Linked DNA regions of Homo sapiens. The protein of the gene in region 1 purifies or fractionates together with the protein of each later gene. This does not show direct contact. Each region holds a gene or a part of one and is shown in the gene's direction. Other genes may lie near its edges.

Region 1 (3,500 bases):
GATAAGCTGACATTGATGGAGATACTGTAGTCCCTGCTTACCCATGGAGGAAGCTATGTTTCAACACCTGCAGTAGGTGCCTGAAATCATGGATAATAACAAACCCTATATATTCCAAGTTTTTTCCTGTGCATACGTATCTGTGATAAAGTTTAATTTATAAGTTAGGCACAATAAGAGATAATAAAAACTCATAATAAAATAGAACAATTATAACAATATACTGTAATAAGAGTTATGTGAATGTGGTCTCTCTCTCTCTCTCTCAAAATATCTTGTGGTACTGTAGTCATCTATTTTCATACCATGTTGACCATGGGTAACTGAAACCCTGAAGAGTGAAACGGTAGATAAGAGGGAAACTACTGTCTGTCAGAGACACAAGAGCCGATGGAAAGAACATCCAATGTCCAAAGACGGAACTCTGAACAACAGAATATTGGATTATAATTCAAAATTTGAAGTAATATTCATGAGTTGATACTGATATAAATAAATGATTAAAGACAAATCTCCCATGCAGAGCAATTCCAAATAATTTATGTAGATGTTCCCCCTCAAAGCGGTGTATCTTAACTCCCTGATTCTTTTTTTTTGAGACAGAGTCTCGCTCTGTCCCCCAGGCTGAAGTGCCGAGGCATGAGCTCTGCTCACTGCAAGCTCCGCCTCCCAGGTTCACACCATTCTCCTGCCTCTGCCTCCCGAGTAGCTGGGACTACAGGCGCCCGCCACCATGCCTGACTAATTTTATGTATTTTTAGTAGAGACAGTGTTTCACCGTGTTAGCCAGGATGGTTTCGGTCTCCTGACCTCGTGATCCACCCGCCTCAGCCTCCCAAAGTGCTGGGTTTACAGGCGTGAGCCATCGCGCCTGGCCCTAACTCCCTGATTCTTAAGTGTGGGCAGCACATAGTGAATTCCTGCCAAAGACTACAATATGGAAAAGGGGGAACCAGTAACTTTACAGTGGAGAAACCTGACAAACACTATGTCAGCTAGATGATCAAGGCCAACATCAACAATGATGATAGCATGATAGTGTGATGTGATGAATTGGCGTTTTACCTCTGTGGTCTTCCCCTAAAAACCCATAAAGCCAGTCGACTCATGAGGAAAATATCAGCAAATCCCTATTGAGAGACGTTCTGCAGAATACCTGATCAGCACTTCTCCCAACTGTCAAGGTCATAAAAATGAGTAAAGTCTGAGAAACTGTCATAGTCAAGAGATGCCTTAAGGATTGAAGGGTAGAAAAAATAATCTGTCCCTCAAACCTTGTAAGTTCATAATTGGGACAGATACCTGTAACAAAAGACATGAACAAGCAAGTTTATTAATGCATGCAGTGCACATCGCAAGGGAGAAAAATAAGCAGTGGCTCAACATACTGTCTTCAACAAAGAACTATACATTTAGAAAAGTGTTAGGACAAAGGAAAGCAGTTCCAGGCTTCCAAAGGCAGGAGAATGTGGGAAGGTGAGTTTATGGGGAAACTCCTGGGGTAAAGTCTACTCGCAGATTTCTCTGCCACCATCTCTGAGGTGATATGGGTTGTAAAGGAGAATGGGTATCTTGTTTTTAGGTGGGAAATGGGGAGAAGATAGACCTCTTGTCTTTGTAATTCTGTGTCCTGCTTTTAGGCAGACAGAGGGAAGGCAGATAGTTTCCTTCATCCTAATTATCTTTAGCTCGAAGGTCTTTCATATTTTGGGGAGATAGGCTGGTTTCCTTCAGTTCTCCCCTTTGAAACTTTACTTTCAGAAAGTCTCACATATTATGTGCTAGGCTGGTAGCTTTGGAGAGGTATGGTTGTAGATAAGTGATTGGCAAAGGGGAAGAAAACCAGATTGGAACCAGCAGAAAAGAACAGATTTAAGTATATTGTCTCATATCTTATTGAGTCAGTCTCTTAGTCCTGAGACTAGGTTAGTTTAGGTAAACAGTCATGTTTTATTTCAAGAGGTGGTGTTATGGGTGATCTCTTTAATGTTAGGTTTCTATATGTATAAGCATACAAATACTTAATAAGAGACATTTCTATGAAAAAAAAGGAAAAGCAAGGTTAATGTTTAGAGCAGTCTATAAATTAGTTTCTGAGTCTGGAGAGCAGCCAGTTGAGAGGATTTATAAATCTTAGGCTCAAAGTGTCTTCAGCTGGAGTGGGGCAGGCAATTGCAATCTGACAGATTTTCCTTGTTTGTAGTTTAAATATCATAAAGGTTGTCGATACAAAAGCTGTTGTGGTGATTTCTCTTATGTTTGTATCAAGTTGTCCAGCTTTAGCTTGCATAGCTTCAGAAAAAGCCCAATTTTAATTTCAGTGATTCCAGGTCAAAGGGTGGGAGAAAAATTGGAAATGTTAGTTTGGAGACTCACAGCCAGGTATCAGAAAAAACTAAAAGAATTTAGGATCCATTCCAGATTGCAGGTAGTTAATAAAATCTCAAAAACAATGAACAGGGCTAGAATCTAGTAATGGGTGAACTATAGTTTCTGAACTATTATTTTTCTGAAAATATTTTTCCTCTCTCACACTAATTTCTACCAAAAAGAATCAGTAAGACCAGTTTATTTGTAAAATAAGTTTTTGTCTATTATACTTGGCCTAATTATTTACATAAATGCAGCAAAAATAGTGATTGACTATGTAAGCCCTTTTAAAATCTGCTTTGCTGGAACTCTTCATAAGGAATCTCGGATTAGGCTTACAAAAATGCCTCCTTAGGCTAAGAAGCCAAGCTTAGGACTCAACATCAGATTGTGCCTATAGTAGTCTTAGATAGATAGCTCTCTTCCCTAGATTCCTGATGTTCCTGGGCCTGTCAGGAAGGTGACATTCTTTACCCTATAAGGCAACCATTTGAACCATGTATTCAAGGTACGAGGCCAGTATTTCCAAGGTGCCTTTATTGGCCCCATTAAACTGAGGTTCCTCTAGGGACCTCAGTTCCCAAAAACTGGTCATATCAGAAAATACGACATTCTCATCAAACTTTGGCAATATAACCAGTATTTTCAATTGTATCCTATTAAAAGAAGAACGGATTCTTCCTGAACTTATGCAAATGCCTATATTATCCTAAAAATAAGAATACTCATGAATAGTTTCCAAATTTTGGAGGGATCAAGTAAGGAAGAAAAGTAAATGTTTCAATTCTATTTGCAAAAGTATACTTTACCAAATTGTCTTAAGCCATAGATAGCGCAAAAGAAGAAAATGTTTTCCTAAATCTGGAAAATAAAAGAATCAGTAGTGTTTCTAATAAAGTCCTAAAAATCACAGTCCCTCATCATGTTAGTCCCATGTAATTAATTCTTAATTTTGCTCGATGTTAGCAATTTTAGGAGTTCAGTTTCTCCTTTAGATTTCTGGAGTTCATACCTAGTCCACTGGTATTTCCTTAAAGTTATCAGAGACCTGTACAGGTCAGAGTTCTTTTTGTTCTTCCCATATACCTCCTTGAAGACCCAAAACTTTAGGATTATAATTGCTTGCAAAA
Region 2 (3,500 bases), on another chromosome or scaffold:
AAAGCCCCTTCCGTTCTTCCGTATGTTAAACTTAGAATCACTCTGTTCCCTGCTCTGCGTTTCTATTTTTTGTTTTTCCTCCATTTACTAGTAGCTTAACACTTTCTAACAGTGTTCTTATTATTGATACGTATCTATCTCTTCCATAAGCTTATAAGGTCACGGATAATACTTCTCATTGTAGTACGTAAATGACGTGGGCTAGATATGAGTTGAATAAACAGTTATACCTGTAAATTCTTACAGAGTGAAAATAAATTGTTATACTTTACAATTTGTTTCTCTCTTTAGACCATTTCCAGGACTTGTGATTAATAACCGTGAGTATTTTGTGAAGTGTTTTGTTTTTGTTTTTTCCTGGGGTCTGACGTGTGTGCGTGTGAGTGTGTATACATGCTTAACGTATATCACGTTACTTCACCTATGTCAGTAACCAGGCCAAATACTTGTTTTAGCCCTCAGTAAAAACACCAGGCACTTCCTAGTTGTAAAATTATTCAAGCTTCTTAACTTCCTATCCTCGATGCACTTAATCATAAAATGGTAATAATAGCACCGATTTTGGGGGAGTCGTTCCAGTAGATGGAAAGCATCTGGAACAGGTGTCAGCAAGCTCCTGCCGACGTGTATGCATAAAGTTTTATTGAAACCACCATCGTGTCCATTTGTTTATGGCAGAACTGAGAGATGGCAGCAGCAAGTGTGTGCCTGCAAAACCTAAAATATTTACTAATTGGCTCTGCAAGAAAAGAGTTTGCATCCCCCTAACCTAGAACAGTGTCTAGCCTCTAGTATGTGTTTAGCCTACAGTATGTGCTCAGCGAATACAATCTATATTTATTACTGCTTTTATGACTGTTATAATTACTGTGCTTGGATTTCGTTACAAAGTAAGTCACAATGTGCCTGCTTCTGTTAGTATTTCAGCACAGTGCCTGGCACACATGGGGCTCTCAAATATTGCTGAGCGAGTGAACAAATGTCCTTTCAATTCCTTAACGTTGATGTCATTTTCAATAGTATTTTGAGCCAAACTTAATTTTGCGAGTGTGTTTTGTTTTCTTAACTTTATTATTAAAAATGTATAAAAGTGAGGCCAGGCGTGGTGGCTCACGCCTGTAATCCCAGCAGTTTGGGAGGCTGAGGCAGGCGGATCAGTTGAGGTTGGGAGTTGGAGACCAGCCCGTCCAACATGGTGAAAGCCTGTCTCTACTAAAAATACAAAAATCAGCTGGGTGTGGTGGCACGTGCCTGTAATCCCAGCTACTCAGGAGGCTGAGGCAGGAGAGTTGCTTGAATCCTAGAGGTGGAGGTTGCAGTGAGCTGAGATCGTGCCATTGCACTCCAGCCTGGGCAACAAGAGCAAAACTCTGTCCCAATAAATAAATAAATAAAATGTTCTCTTTTGTTCCTGTTCTTGTGCGGTAGTGTGGTATAGAGTTTTATGGTAATTACTGTGAATTAGTGATTCTGAGGGACATATCAGAACTCTGAGGTTTGTTTCCTTCTCATCTTGAGGGAAACAGCAAATGTATGTTAAAATGCTTTTCCAAGGGAACAACACATCCTTACATTATTTAAACCAATCTGCTTCATTTTCAGAGCTGGTTGATCAGAGTGAGTCAGAAGGCCCCGTGATACAAGGTGAGCGAGGCAGGGGAGGGCCCGGAGCTACTCCTGCCTGCACAGTGGCACAATGGCGTGCCTGCGTGTGGCTTTGGCTCTCAGTCACCTGCCCTGAGGGGACTCAGTTACACAGCACACACATGCTTCTCTGTGGTTTTCACTCCTGGGTTTGACAGCTGATCAAAACATAAATTCAAGCTGTGGGTCCTGATTGAGAACTGGGGGCTGCAGACCATTTGCACCCCCTATCCCAGCTCAGGCCTAACATCAGGAACCCCAGGATTAATGGGTAGGATGAAATGGCAGAGCAAGAGGGCCGTCACTTTAACCTGACTCTGCCATCCATTTCTAATGTCTGCCATAAGTCAGTGAGCAAAATGTTCTTCAGTAGAAATGTACACATTGTGCTCTTAAAAAATTCCTTAAAAAACAAGTGGAATGGCCTGGTGCTGTGTGAGTCATTGAAAGTAATGAGACTGGGCGCGGTGGCTCACGCCTGTTATCCCAGCACTTTGGAAGGCTGAGAAGGGTAGATCACTTGAGATCAGGAGTTCGAGACCAGCCTGGCCAACATGGTGCAACCCCGTCTCTACTAAGAATACAAAAACTAGCCAGACGTGGTGGCGTGTGCCGGCTACTCAGGAGGCTGAGGCAGGAGAACCGCTTGAGCCTGGGAGGCGGAGGTCGCAGTGAGCCAAGATCGTGCCACTGCACTCCAGCCTGGGCAACAGAAAGGAGATTCTGTCTCAAAAAAACAAACATACGAAGAAAAACAAAAAAAGTAATGAAAAGCTTTTATTAAAGGGAGTAAACAGAAGGATAAGGGAGAAAGCATAACTAAGGAGCTTGTTTTCATGGTAGAGCTATGTTAAGACTCTGCTCTTTCAAACTTCAGTTGCATATGTGAACTTAGGACCACATTTGAAAAACAGAAATTTGAAAGTACACTTGGATAATCGTGTGCTCCATCTCAAGACCGTGAGCATTGTTTCATCATGCACCTGTGTTTGTACAGAGTCTAGAGGGCTTTTCTCCTCTTCCTCCTCCTGGGTTCTTTACATAGTATAAAGCAGCTGTTGAACAATGTGGAAATCAGTCTCTGTGTTTCTCTTTAGAATCAGCTGAACCAAGCCAGTTGGAAGTTCCAGCCACAGAAGGTAAAAGGGTGGGGTGGTCCTGCAAGTCCTTAAGACTTCTTCTTTCTTCTTCTTCTTTTTTTTTTTTTTAAAGACAGAGACTTGCTCTGTCACCCAGGGTGGAGTGAGGTTGCGCGATCTCTGCAACCTCCGCCTCCCGGGCTCAAGCAGTTCTCCTGCCTCAGCCTCCCGAGTAGCTGGGATTACAGGCCTGCACCACCATGCTTGGCTAATTTTTGTATTTTTAGTAGAAACGGGGTTTCACCATGTTGGCCAGGCTAGTCTCAGACTTCTGACCTCAAGTGATCCGCCAGCCTTGGCCTCCAAAGTGCTCGGATTACAGGCGCGAGCCACCTTGCCCAGCCAAGACTTTTTTATCAGGACAAAGGATTGTGCATTTAAACTATTTCACTAGAACTGGGTGGTGGTTTTGCTCTCTTTCTTCTGGGTGAATTGGATTTGCAGGTTATGCTGTTGAGTGATGACGCATAGCTGCTTTTGCTCCATTTCCCCCAGATGACTTGGTAAATTCTCCGTGAATGACTCTGCTACATAACCTAGATAACCTAACGTGTGTCCTTTAAATGCATGTAAGCCAGAAGATGTATGTTACTTTGAAAACATAAGTAACAAAATTTTGAATGTATTGCTAAAGAGATGTCTCTCTGAAGCTCTTTTGATGTTTGGTGTCTTGTCCTTCTTATTAAACCATATCTTAGTAAATAGTTTGGTACGAAT
Region 3 (3,500 bases), on another chromosome or scaffold:
TTGGCTCACTGCAAGCTCTGCCTCCCAGGTTCACGCCATTCTTCTGCCTCAGCCTCCTAAATAGCTGAGACTACAGGCACCCGCCACCACGCCCGGCTAATTTTTTGTATTTTTAGTAGAGACAGGGTTTCGCTATGTTAGCCAGGATGGTCTCAATCTCCTGACCTCATTATCCGCCCACCTCAGCCTCCCAAAGTGCTGGGATTACAGGCGCCATCCACCATGCCTGGCCTAGCTTTCTTACATTGAATTTTTGCCAGTAAATATGTCCTCCTCCTCTCTAAATCTATCATCTGAATTATCCTTCAAGACCCATATCAAATTCTGTCCTCTTCATAAATACCTGCCGTGATTGAGCTAGCCTGAAAAGACCTCACCCTCCTCTGGACATTTTTGGCAATTATTGTGTATGCAATCCAGATGGCAATTAATAATTGGCTGCCTTGTGTCATCTGTCCTATTGTCCTAGAATATCATTTGTATCTCTTATTGTTATATAACTTTTTACTTGTTTGTCTTGTTTCACAACTCATTTTTAATCTTGAGCACAGGGAATATATATATATATATTTATTTATTTATTTTGAAACAGGTTCTGGCTCTGTCACCCAGGCTGGAGTGCAGTGGTGCAGTCTTGGTTCACTGCAACCTCCGCCTTATGGGCTCAAGCCATCCTCCATCCTCCCACCTCAGCCTCCTGGCTAGCTGGGACTATAGGCACGTGCCACCAGGCCCAGCTTTTTTTTTTCGAGATGTATTGCCCAGGCTAGAGTGCAGTGGTGTGATCTTGGCTCACTGCAACCTCCACCTCCTGGGTTCAAGCTATTCTCCTGCCTTAGCCTCCTGAGTAGCTGTGATTACAGGCATGCGCCACCACCCCTGGCTAATTTTTTTATTTTTAGTAGAGACAGGGTTTCACCATGTCGGTCAGGCTGGTCTTGAACTCCTGACCTCATGATCCGCCTGCCTCGGCCTCCCAAAGTGCTGAGATTACAGGCGTGAGCCACTGCGCCCGGCCTATGCCCGGCTAATTTTTGTAATTTTTGTAGAGATGGGGTTTTGTCATGTTGTCTGGGATGGTCTCAAACTCCTGAGGTCAAGCAGTGTGCCTGCCTTAGCCTCCCAAAGTGCTGGGATTACAGGCATGAGCCACCGTGCCCAGCAGGAAACGTATCTTAAGCCTGTCCCCTACAATGCCTTGCCCGTAGTAGATCTATACTTTGCTGTGACCCAGTGGACCTCTTGTCGTAGAGGCTGCTCAAAGGCTTGATTGGCTTTGTAGAGTTATATCATATCCAGGCTCTTAGGTCCTGCTAATTCCCTTGCGCCCCTTTTGCCTTGTTCTCTCTTCTAGGCACCTCATTGTGAACATGCTTTCTGCAACGCCTGCATCACCCAGTGGTTCTCTCAGCAACAGACATGTCCAGTGGACCGTAGTGTTGTGACGGTCGCCCATCTGCGCCCAGTACCTCGGATCATGCGGAACATGTTGTCAAAGCTGCAGATTGCCTGTGACAACGCTGTGTTCGGCTGTAGTGCCGTTGTCCGGCTTGACAACCTCATGTCTCACCTCAGCGACTGTGAGCACAACCCGAAGCGGCCTGTGACCTGTGAACAGGGCTGTGGGTGAGATTTGTTCCCTTCTGCCCCACATGGATAAGGGCCATCTCATTTATGCCCCTGTCTCTGGCTGCCCTCCTCACTAGCTGAGGAGGTCTCTTTGGCATGTTGGCAAGGAGTATTCTTAGCCTCCTTGGCTTCCTGCTCTAAGATCTTACTTTCTTGCTGCTTTTCCAACTATAATCATTTTGCTCTTGCTTTAACAAAAGAAGGGGCACAGCAATTTAGTAAATTTGTGTAATAACATTAAAGCTTGATTGACTCTATTCTTCCCTTTCAGTCCAATACTACTTTCCGTTTGTCAGGTTGACTGCTATAATTGCCAGCCTTCTCATATTTCCTCTTGCCCTATTTTTTTATTTCTGTGGGTTATGAAATATTCGACTAAATGTTGATAGCTGAAGGGCATGTTAGCTCACACCTGTAATCCTAGCACTTTGGGAGGCCGAAGTGGGCAAGTCACTTCAGGCCAGGAGTTCAAGACCAACCTGGCCAACATGGCAAAACCTTGTCTCTACTAAAAATACAAAAATTAGCCAGGTGTGGGGCCGGGCGCGGTGGCTCACGCCTGTAATCCCAGCACTTTGGGAGGCCAAGGCGGGTGGATCACGAGGTCAGGAGATTGAGACCATCCTGGCTAACACATTGAAACCCCGTCTCTACTAAAAATACAAAAAACTAGCCAGGCGTGGTGGCAGGCACCTGTAGTCCCAGCTACTTGGGAGGCTGAGGCAGGAGAACGGCATGAACCTGGGACGGGGAGCTTGCAGTGAGCAGAGATTGAGCCACTGCACTCCAGCCTGGGCAACAGAGCGAGACTCCGTCTCAAAAAAAAAAAAAAAAAATTAGCCAAGTGTGGTGGTGCTCGCCTGTAATCCCAGCTACTCAGGAGGCTGAGGCATGAGAATCACTTAAAACCAGAGGTAGAGGTTGTAGTGAGCTGAGATCGCGCCATTGCACTCCAGCCTGGGTGACAGAATGAGACTCTGTTCCCCCTAACTAAAAAATAAAAAGAATGTTGATAGCTGGGGCTGTGAATATAGGGCTTCTCTGAAGGAATAAGTGCACAGGCAGAATCTGTAGGAGGAAAAGGAGAGCTGTGCAGTAGATAAAAACAGTGTGTCAAAATAAATAAATAGGCCCCGTGCGGTGGCTCACGCCTGTAATCCCAGCACTTTGGGAGGACGAGGCGGGCGGATCACCTGAGGTCAGGAGTTCAAGACCAGCGTGGCCAACATGGTGAAACCCCATCTCTACTAAAAATATAAAAATTAGCCAGGTGTGGTGGTGGGCACCTGTAATCCCAGCTACTCGGGAGGCTGAGGCACAAGAATTACTTGAACCCATGAGGCGGAGGTTGCAGTGAGCTGAGACCGTGCCATTGCACTCCAGCCTGGGTGACAAGAGTGAAACTTGGTCTCGAAAAAAAAAAAAAAAGGCCAGGCGCGGTGGCTCACGCCTGTAATCCCAACACTTTGGAAGGCCGAGGGGGGCAGATCACGTGAGGCCAGGAGTTTGAGACCAGCCTGGCTAACATGGAGAAACCCCATTTCTACTAAAAATACAAAAAGTTAGCCGGCCATGGTGGCGCGCACCTGTAATCCCAGCTACTCGGGAGGCTGAGGCAGGAGAATCGCTTGAACCTGGGAGGCAGAGGTTGCGCTGAGCTGAGATCATGCCATCGCACTCCAGTTTGGGCAACAAGAGCGAAACTCCGTGTCAAAAAAAATAATAAAAATACAAAATAAAATAAATTTAAAAAATAGATAAAACACTGTGTCTTGATTGGGGAAAGAAATTTAAGGAAAATAGACAGCAAAGGGGCAAGTAGGAAGCTTGGACGAAGAAAGTGAAGGGAATAAACAAGAGGGAGGCCTGAA
Region 4 (3,500 bases), on another chromosome or scaffold:
ATCACATATAATTTATTAGCTTTTCGTTATTGAAGATATTATTGCCCGGGCATGGTGGCTCACACCTGTATGGGCAACATGGCAAAACCCCATCTCTACAAAAAATACAAAAAACTAGCTGGAGATGGTGGTATGCAAGTGTAGTCCCAGCTGCTCAGGAGACTGAGGCAGGAGGATTGATTGAGCCCAGGTGGTCAAGGCTGCAGTGAGCCATGATTGTGCCACTGTACCCCAGCCTGGGCGACAGAATGAGACCCTGTCTCAAAAAAAAAAAAAAAAAAGATACTGAAGTATTCCGTTCAGTAACATGAAACTTTTAAGATAATTCTCACATTTTAATTTTTACTTCATTAAATGGAATCTAATTTGCCATACATAGATTTATTGAAATATGGCACTGTTAACATTTTCTTTTTCTTACCTGACTGTGTAAAATTAGTTTTTGCTTGTTTTCTCATATCATTCTTAGATAGCTTGTACATAATAAGGCTTGTATTATCGAAAGAAGCAATACTGTTCTTATTAATTATGGACACTTTTTTTTAGTACTTATTACAATTCTAAAACAATTGCCATCAGTATTCAGCAGTAATATAAATAACAAAAGCAATAATATAAAGAAAAACATACAGATTGAGTATCCTAAATGCTTGGGACTGGAAGTGTTTTGGATTTCGGATTTTGGAATACTTGCAGATAATGTATGGGTTGAGCATCCCTTATCTGGAAATCTGAAATCTGAAGTGCTCTTGTGAGCATTTCCTTAGAGTGTCTTGTTGCTAAGAAAGTTTTGGATTTTGGAGCATTTTGGATTTCGGATTTTCAGATTAGGGATGCTCAACCTGTAATAGGAATATGACAGGAGACCTTAATATTTTAGAAAAATCTGCGTTACTGTGTGAAGTCATCTTTTAAATATTTTTCCACCAAAAAATAAATGCTCATTATAGTAAACTTAGAAAATGGTAGTCTTTAGAAAAATTACGAATGGCAGAAAGGTAAAGCTACTTAATGAGACAAATCAGTCTGTAGTACCCAAAGATAGCCTCTATCAACTAGCAGATTTCTTATTTTGTGCACTGTTTTTTATCATAGTTGTGATCATACTGTTCATACAGTTTTGACTAGTAAACTGAGAAAATAATAGACTTCAGAAAAATAAGAAACTTAAGAAAAAAATAGAAACTTTAGAAATATTAGAAACTTCAGGAAAGTAAAGATACTTCATGAAAGAGGCTGGATGTGGAGGCTCATGCCTGTAATCCCAGCACTTTGGGAGGCCAAGGCAGGCAGATCACTTGAGGTCAGGAGTTTGAGACCAGCCTGGCCAACATGGCGAAACCCTGTCTCTACTGAAAATATAAAAATTAGCCGGGCTTGGTGGCATCCCAGCTACTCGGGAGGCTGAGGCAGGAGAATTGCTTGAACTCAGGAAGCGGAGGTTGCTTGAACTCAGAATTGTGCCACTGCAATCCAGCCTGGGTGACAGAATAGGACTCTGTCTCAAAAAAAAAAAAAAAAAAAAAAAAACTTTATGAAAGAAATGAGCCAGTCACAGTACAGCTGAAAAACTGTTGTGAGAGGACCTCATGTATTTTAACTACAAAATTATTTTAATAGACATAGATAACTCTTCTTCAGTGAGCTTCAGTAGTTTGTGTCTTTCAAGGAATTTGCCATTTCCTCTAAGTTTTGAAATTTATTGGTGCTAATTTTCATTTTGATTTCACCTTTGACCCAAGAATAATTTAAGTATGTTATTTTGTGTCCAAATATTTTGGGAGTTTTCCAGACGACTTTCTGATACTGATTTCTAATTTAATTTCATGTGGTCAGAGAACATACTTTCTATAATTTGAATCCTTTTAAATTTATGGAGCCTTAATTTTGGCCCAGGATATGGTCTATCTGGTAAATGTTGTGTGTGCACTTGAAGAGTGTGTATTCTGTTATTGTTAGGTGTAATTAAGTCAGATTGGCTGATAGTGGTGTTCGCGTCACTTATTTCCTTATGATTTTCTGTACACTCGCTCTATCAGTTATTAAGAGAGAAAGAGGGTGACCTCTCTTGACGATAATTGTAGATTTGACTTTCTCCTTGAAGTCCTATCAGTTTTTTCTTCAAGTATCTTGAAGCTCTTTTATTTGGTACATTAATATTTAGGATTGTTATGCATTTAATGAATTGACCCTTTATCATTATGATGGTATCCCTGGATATAGGCTTTGCCCAAAGTTTGATGTTAATATAGCTACTCCTGTTTCGTTTGATTGTTATTAGAACGTATATCTTTTCATCCTTTTATTTTTAATCTATTTGTGTTTATATTTAACATGGATTTCTTGTCTCTCTTGCTTTTTAAAAATCCATTCTGAAAATCTCTGCTTGTTAGTGCAGGTGTTTAGACCGTTTACATTTAATGCAGTTATTGCTATGGTTATAATTAAATCTACCATCTATTCTTCTCTCCTTCCTGCCTTATTTTGGATAATTTTTTATGATCCCATTTTATCTTATTTGTAGGCTTATTAGCTATGCCTTTTTTGTTTTGTTTTTGTAGTGATTGTTTTATGGTTCATAATATATATCTTATTGTCAACTATTCTCACTTTGTACAATACTGTGTTTACTAAAATTTGTGCATACAAGAATCTTTTCACTTTGCATGATTTTTTGGTAACAGTTACTTTGCCAGTGAAGGTCACAGTTTTGATGTGCCCAAGTTTCAGTTAACACAGTACCATGCAAAGTAAGGACTACTTATCATTTCGCGTATGGTATAAAAATCTTATACTTCCTTTTCCATTTCCCCTCTACTAGCTTGGCCTTTTGTGCTACTGTTGTGATTCATGTTATTTCTACTTTTGTTGTTTCCACAATATGTTATGATTTTTACTTTAAACAGTATGATTTAAAAATAAGAAAAATATTTATCCACATTTACCAATTTTTGTAAATGTTCATTCCTTTGTGTATAGATTCAGATTTTTATCTGGTATCATTTTCCTTTTGCCTAAAGAACTTCTTTTAATATTTTTTGTAGTGTCAATCTGCTGATGATAAATCAATTCTTTCCGGCTCTGTGAACTAAGGGGATTGTTCTGCCTGCTCACTTTGGGCAATTCTTTTTCCAGCCTTAGGTAGTTTCCTCACATGCCTGCACTGATCAGTACTCAACTGAAGACTTGAGGAGGTTGCTTCTATAAATCTCTGAAGCTCTCTGTTTATACAGCTTTCTCCTCATTGTTACTCTGCTCTGCAAATTTTAGCTGTCTCGATCCCCCAAAACTCCCAACTCCTTTTCTACTCAGGCTGACTCCCAGGCTCCACCTAAGTTTCCTGTCTCTGTACTGTCACTTGGAAGCTTTCCAGGCAATAAGATGGGGCAGTCAGAGGGTATATGTTGTTCTCCTCCCTTTCCCCAGGGATCACTGCTCCATGCTGCCTGTAGTCCAGTGTCTGTAACCATTGTTTTCTGTATTTATTTTTTCTTTTTAGT

What was found.
Region 2: the proteins of SHTN1 (region 1) and GTF2I fractionate together in Homo sapiens (co-fractionation; one large-scale study listed by BioGRID). This does not show direct contact.
Region 3: the proteins of SHTN1 (region 1) and RNF41 purify together in Homo sapiens (affinity purification with mass spectrometry; 2 studies listed by BioGRID and IntAct, with this or other methods). This does not show direct contact.
Region 4: the proteins of SHTN1 (region 1) and TSNAX fractionate together in Homo sapiens (co-fractionation; one large-scale study listed by BioGRID). This does not show direct contact.

What each region holds. Positions count from the first base shown.
Region 1 is NC_000010.11:116,995,188-116,998,687, reverse strand, and holds part of SHTN1 (shootin-1), read left to right. Parts: intron 1-3,500. UniProt on the Homo sapiens protein: Involved in the generation of internal asymmetric signals required for neuronal polarization and neurite outgrowth.
Region 2 is NC_000007.14:74,755,218-74,758,717, forward strand, and holds part of GTF2I (general transcription factor II-I), read left to right. Parts: intron 1-291; coding exon 292-320; intron 321-1,602; coding exon 1,603-1,644; intron 1,645-2,741; coding exon 2,742-2,783; intron 2,784-3,500. UniProt on the Homo sapiens protein: Interacts with the basal transcription machinery by coordinating the formation of a multiprotein complex at the C-FOS promoter, and linking specific signal responsive activator complexes.
Region 3 is NC_000012.12:56,208,423-56,211,922, reverse strand, and holds part of RNF41 (E3 ubiquitin-protein ligase NRDP1), read left to right. Parts: intron 1-1,354; coding exon 1,355-1,626; intron 1,627-3,500. UniProt on the Homo sapiens protein: Acts as E3 ubiquitin-protein ligase and regulates the degradation of target proteins. Polyubiquitinates MYD88. Negatively regulates MYD88-dependent production of pro-inflammatory cytokines.
Region 4 is NC_000001.11:231,538,669-231,542,168, forward strand, and holds part of TSNAX (translin-associated protein X), read left to right. Parts: intron 1-3,500.